Homo sapiens: one gene and its partner. The protein of the gene in region 1 interacts with the protein of each later gene in a pairwise test. Each region holds a gene or a part of one and is shown in the gene's direction. Other genes may lie near its edges. The genes, in order: SPECC1L and ECPAS.

Region 1 (2,529 bases):
GCCTAACTTGTAGCAGCTGGAGGTGCTGTGAAGAAGTGTTTACGCCCATGTTCACTCATTAGAGTCTTCATGCCACAGGTGCATCTAAATCCCTAGAAATGTGCATTTTTTAGGGTGGCCTCTGTTCACCTGTACAGGGAAAAATAAGTTAAATATTCCCCCATTCCTGGATATTTTACAACACGTGTAAAGTTCCAATATATAAAAAAAGCAGGCCTTTTTCCCACCCTCAAAAGCTTCTATAGTCAAGATTCTTGCATTGAACAGGCAGGTTTTCGTTTTCTGCATCAAGTCACCAAGGGCGCCCTCCTGATCCTGCGTGCTCAGCCACACGTCCTGTGCTCGTCACCCATGGGAAGGGAAGGATCTCTCAGGCCGGCCCCTTGGGTCACTCCCCGAGCCTTCAGCAGCAGCAGTGTGTCACTTTTTGAGGCCTTCTGTCTCGTGTTAAAGGCTGTGAGACACTGGAGTGAGGTGGGGGTGGGTCCACGGTTTCCCAAGTTTATTTTCCTAGAACATCAGTTCACCGGTCACAGGTCACTGGCGTTCAGCAGAGCACAGTTACAGAGCAGAGTCTTGGATGATTTCAGACTGTTGCCCATGGTGAAGGCCGTCAGAGTGTTGGTTCTGGGAGCCCCCGACAGAGAGAAATTCTCCTAGGCCAGTGCCTGGGGCTGAGAAGGGCTCTCAGAAGGGTCCCCCAAGGAGTGGTTTAAGAAGAGAGGCAGGCGCGGGGAGGAGGGAGGAAGTTCCTCCGCCCAGACTGGATGAAACCCTTCCCATCCTGCAGAGCCGTGAGCAGGGAGGCACCTTGCCTGTGGCTCTGGGGCAGGGGTGGATGGCCTGGGGACGATGCTGATGCCCAGGGAGGAAGCATTCTTGGCCAGGCTTTAAAAATGTGTAATTAGGCCTAGAAAATATTTCAAGGCCCCATCCAACTCCAAGAGCCCATGTTGCTATGGCAGAGCCCATTGGCACAGCCTGGAGGTGACCTGCAGTTCTAACCAAGCGTCTTCCTTGTCTGTCAGGACATTAATGAAATGGTACGGACTGAACGACCCGACTGGCAGAACGTGATGCTGTATGTGACGGCGATCTACAAGTACTTTGAGACCTGAGCATGCCGGGAGGAGCCGCCCCAATAGCGGGGGTACCCCTCCACAGCGACCGAGCGACACCGACGCCATTAGCTACGCACCCCTGTAAAGCTTCCAGCAACTCTGGGCTGCCCCACAGCGTGTGAGCCTCCAGCTCGGGGCTTCCGTATTGGAAGAACTCAGCCGTGTGGCCCACAGCTCCCACCAGGGCCCCTCCCACATGACCCGTCCATTCAGGTCATGTGGGCTCAGCACACATCCTGCAGGCCGGTGGCTGCTGGAGTTTTCCTTCTGAAGAGAATATTGAACTACACTAGTGCTCCAGGGCACCAAACAAAAAGGGCTCATGCACAGCTGAATTTGGGAAAAGGGATTCAGTTCTGTGGGAAACTCACTAGGGTTGATGAAGGCTCGGCCGCGGCACTTCCTGACTATTGGCTGGGGTGGGTTCCGGTGCTGGTGAGAACCCAGAAGGAGAGTCAGCGCCTGGCAGTTCCCAGCGCCCTGGGCCCTTCACCGTCCTAGTTTGGAGGAGCATGTTCACCACAGACGTGGGTCAGCTGCCCCACACCTGACGGGGCTGTCCCGGCCGACACAATCCAGGCGTGTTCAGCCTGAGCTAGGAGAGTATCTAGAGGGCGTGGTGCGGGCACGCCAGGGCTGGGGTGCTGCTGCTGCACTCACGCGGCTGGGCTTTCTGGCGGGAAGCAGTTACGGGGGCCCCTTGCCTGGACTCAGCGACCTGTCTTCCAGCCTGGAAGGGGTTTGGAGTCCCAGCTCTGGCTTTAGATTTCTTCATCATAAGGAGTTTTTCTAGTTAACATTTTTGTTTTGTTACGAGCAATGCTGGAAAAGGTCGCTCCTGTTCTGTTAGTACCAAAGTTACATTGTTTCAATAAGCATAGAAATCTAAACAACATCTGTACATTAGCATGGTGAGAGCAAGGAATAAAGCAGGAAATAGGAGAAAAGTAAACAACTTTAGGGAGCCCAGGCAGTGTCATTTAAACTCACTGAGTCACTAAGACATAATTCTCCTAGGCCAGAGTTAAAGAAAGTGCCTTAACTCTTCTTGTGAGGGCAGCCACTGCCCTCCGTGGCCAAGGCAGGACCTCCAAGACTCAGTGGTTGAGTTGTCTCCTACCACCATGCCCGCCCTCCCCAGGTACTGGGTCCATGCCCCCTGTGCCCACCCTCCCCAGGTGCTGGGTCCATGCTGTTTGAACCAAAGCCTTATTTAAAGGTGGTCACTGGAGATGCTCTCAGGCCAGAACTCAACAGCTATTTTTGGGAATAGGGATCTCCCGTGTGCCTAACGCAGTAGCTATTGGTTTGAACAATGTCCAGACAAGACCTGTACCTTTGAGAATATAACTGTGTTTGGCACCTGCATAGCACCATGAGGAAGACCAGCCACCAGTGGAAGCGGGGT
Region 2 (3,825 bases), on another chromosome or scaffold:
TGTTTTAAGTTGATTACATCACTAGCAAGCTGGACCAGTTGCTTCTCTTAGCCTCTGTTTCTCTATCAAGAAAGAGTTTGGATTTAGATCATTACTGAGTTTCTTCCATCTTTAAAATCTGATTCTAATGCAAGTCTTTTCATGTTATGCTCAAAAGACTACATATGCAGTATTTTTTAGCTTTTGTTTACAGATGCCTGTAAAGTATTGCCTAAATTTATTAGAGATACAGTATTCTGGTTATAAATTCTTGTTGTAAATAGGGAAACTTATGGTAGAGAATTTATCATTTAACTCTTGGTTAATATCTCCTGCCTTGGTTGGTACCCTGATAGCTTTAATAGTATACCTGTAACTTTGAAGAAGAAAATATTACATTTTCTTTTCTTTGATATATCCTAGAACTCACTTGAAAGCAGTGGGGTCCGGACAACCAAAAATGAAGAGGAGAATGAAAAGGAAAAGGAGCTCCAGCTGGAATATCTGCTGGGTGCCTTTGAAAGCCTGGGCAAAGCCTGGCCGCGAAACGCGGAGACCCAACGTAAGCACCAGAAACTGCATTTGAAGTGCTGTAACCAGAGGTTACTTAATGAGAGCGAAGAATTTTCTCTATGACAAATTATAGTTATTGTTTCTTATCGAGCCTGATTGATTAATAATGAGAATTATCCAGTGAAAGTTTTTTGTCTACATGAGTCTGTGATCTCACTGATCATTGTACCGCTGTAGCTAGGGCTGCTGTAAGAAAGTATCACAGACTGGGTGGCTTAGCAGAAATTTATTTTCTCACAATTCTGGAGGATAGAAGTCTGAGATTTCGAGATCAAGGCGTCAGCAGGGTTAGTTTCTCCTGAGACCTCTCTCCTTGGCTTGGGAATGGCTGTCTTCTCCCTGTGTCTTCACGTGGTCTTTGGTGTCTCTGTGCCCTAATCACCTCTTCCTATAAGGACACCAGGCACGCTGGATTAGGGCCCACTCATATGACCTCTTTAAAGGCTCTGTCTTCTATTTAATAATAATACAGTCAAATTCTGAGGTACTGGGGGATAGTATTTTAACATACGAATTTTGGGGGCACAGTTCCACCTATAATAACCATGATACATTTTATGCAGATAGTTTGATAGACGAGTTCTACTGATCTTCTTGATGATCATAGCTCTATTCAGAGGAATGCACAAAGTTTATTAGCAGGGTCTCTTTATCCTGAAATGAATGGTCTTGTTACCAAGTGTTCAGTAAGCAACTGAAATCCCTGTTTCAGTGAAAAACTCATTACTATTTGGACAATTTTCAGAACTGGACATGTATTTCCCAAAGATTAAATGAACAGTAAACCTCTATTATTGGATGAGGTTGCAGTTAGTTTGGAGTCCCCTGACAGGGCCTTAACCTTGGGATGATACTACCCTTTACACTTGATCTTAGCCAAAAGGCCAAGAAGTGATGATGCTACCCTTTAAGCTTGCCTTGTGTTGGGTCCTACAGTGCATCCTGCTGAAGATCTTAGTATTCGTTTTTTTTTTGTTTGTTTTTTTTTTGAGACAGGGTCTTGCTTTGTTGCCCAGGCTGGAGTGCAGTGGTGCAGTTCTTGCAGCCTTTACCTCCTGGGCTCAAGTGATCTTCCTGCCTCAGCCTCCCAAGTATTTGGGTCTACAAGTGCATGCCACGACACCCAGCAAATTTTTTTTGAAGAGGTGAGGTCTTGCTATGTTGCCCAGGTTGGTCTCAAACTCCTGGGCTCAAGTGATCCTCCCACTTTGGCCTCCCTCTCAAAGTGCTGGGATTATAGGTATGAGCCTCCATGCCCAGCGACAATATTATTGAATGTTATAAAAAGTACTGTTGATTATTTGTGATTGGATATGTCTAGAATCAGTTAAGGTTCTCTTTGAGCCCTGTCATCCTTTGTGTGAACTTATATATTTGCTATGTTTATAGGAAGGGTTTCCCAGAAGATACAAATTTGCAGGTGGTTTTATTTCTTAATATTATGTTATAGACTGCCATGGAAGTCCACTAATATGATGCCATAAAGAGTATTAACTTTTCCTTGATAGGTAGAGAAAGCTAAAGTAGGGAATTATATGAGAAAGATGATACAAACATAAAGCAGTTTATTTTAATATAAGACATAGAAGGTTGTTAATAGAAATGTGCATTTATTGAGAACCAAGGCCTTTTCTTTAGGAACTTAACTGTTACACATTGGCTTCTCATATATATCTACAATTTCTGGGTTTTGTTTCTTTAAAACAGAGAAAGAAATTTCAAGCTCTTATGAGACAATCCTAGTGCAGAATTCTAGATTTTTTATTGCCTCCCCCCATTTTTACATTTGTTTGAGCCCTACTAAATCCTACAGTAATTAAAAATAACTTCGTTGTTGAGTTTTCTGCTGATTCATCAGTTGGCATAATATTAATTATATAGTTATAATTACAGTTGCAGTTGGCATAACAGGTTTATAATAAAGCACTGTTGACTCTTGGTAAACCTGCAATTTGCAGAAGCTTGTGAGCATCTAGAGAGGAGCTTCTGGCCTCCAGAGTTCTTTCTGTGGCTGTCATTCAGGGAGTTTTGAGGGGCAAAGGGAGTGTGGTTAAAGTGCTTTCTCAGTTCCATGGAGAACCATATGCCTTGAAAGTGAATATTTGTGAACAATTATATTGCACCTTTGTGGGGGCAGTTTCTGATCAAGGAAATTTGTTTGGGGATTGAGTACAAAGTCATGCTGAAGTTTTTGGGGAAATTTCAATGGCTTTAATTAAAAGTATTTATTGTTTTATTTCTCTTTTTCCTGCTTTTCTCTCTCTTATCCTCCCCACCTTCTCTCTTTCTCTTTCCCTCTTCCTTTCTCTTGCTCTCTCTGCCTGTCCCTCATTTATTCCATCTCTTGTTCTTTTATACTGTCTCCTGCTCTGTCCCACCTTGTCTTTTTTTCCCAGGTTGTTATCGTCAGGAGCTGTGCAAACTGATGTGTGAACGGCTAAAACTCAGCACGTGGAAAGTGCAGCTAGGAGTCCTGCAATCAATGAATGCCTTTTTTCAGGGGTAAATTGCTTCATGGCTCAGTTTTTTATTTTGTTCCTCCCCGCAGCATTTTATGTATAATCAATGGAATTTTTATACATTTAAAAACTGGTAGCTAAAGTGACAGTGATACATACAGATAGAAATTGTGACAGGAAAGTTTTAGACTGTTTCTTAATAATTGGCATTTGTACCTTGCTTTCTGATTTGTATAGGTTAATGCTTTTGGAAGAAGAACATGCCGATCCTGAGGCTTTGGCTGAAATTCTGCTTGAAACTTGTAAATCAATCACATATTCTTTAGGTGAGTGTAGTAAACTAAAACTGATGAGGGAGTCCTAATTTTAAAGCTAAGGAGCTGAGCTTCAAATATTTCCTACTTTGTCTTAGGAACTAAATTTCTGAAATAGCTACTGGACTCTGCTACTTATTATACTCCATGTGTACCCCTTAACTGGAATATTTAAATCTGGAACTATAACAGGATTTTAGCATCTAGTTTAGAAAAACCTTCGTGACAAGTATTTTTACAAAATTGTTACTTGAAAGTAATTTCAAACTTACAGAATGGTTGCAACGACAGTACATGTAATACTCTGCAATATGTATACACTTTATGCAGAATCATTTGTTAACATTTTGTGCCATTTGCTTTGTCATTTGGACTTCTATATACATGTTTTTCTCCTGAACCATTTGAAAGTATGTTGCTTACTTCAGGCCCCCTTGTTCCTCAATTATTTAGTGTGCCACGGTACAGTTGTCAACTTTAGGTAGTAAACATGGATGCAG

What was found.
Region 2: the proteins of SPECC1L (region 1) and ECPAS interact in a two-hybrid assay, tested with the Homo sapiens proteins (one large-scale study listed by BioGRID).

The regions. Positions count from the first base shown.
Region 1 is NC_000022.11:24,413,506-24,416,034, forward strand, and holds part of SPECC1L (cytospin-A), read left to right. Parts: intron 1-1,028; coding exon 1,029-1,118; 3' UTR 1,119-2,529. UniProt on the Homo sapiens protein: Involved in cytokinesis and spindle organization. May play a role in actin cytoskeleton organization and microtubule stabilization and hence required for proper cell adhesion and migration.
Region 2 is NC_000009.12:111,365,751-111,369,575, reverse strand, and holds part of ECPAS (proteasome adapter and scaffold protein ECM29), read left to right. Parts: intron 1-402; coding exon 403-541; intron 542-2,948; coding exon 2,949-3,054; intron 3,055-3,248; coding exon 3,249-3,337; intron 3,338-3,825. UniProt on the Homo sapiens protein: Adapter/scaffolding protein that binds to the 26S proteasome, motor proteins and other compartment specific proteins. May couple the proteasome to different compartments including endosome, endoplasmic reticulum and centrosome.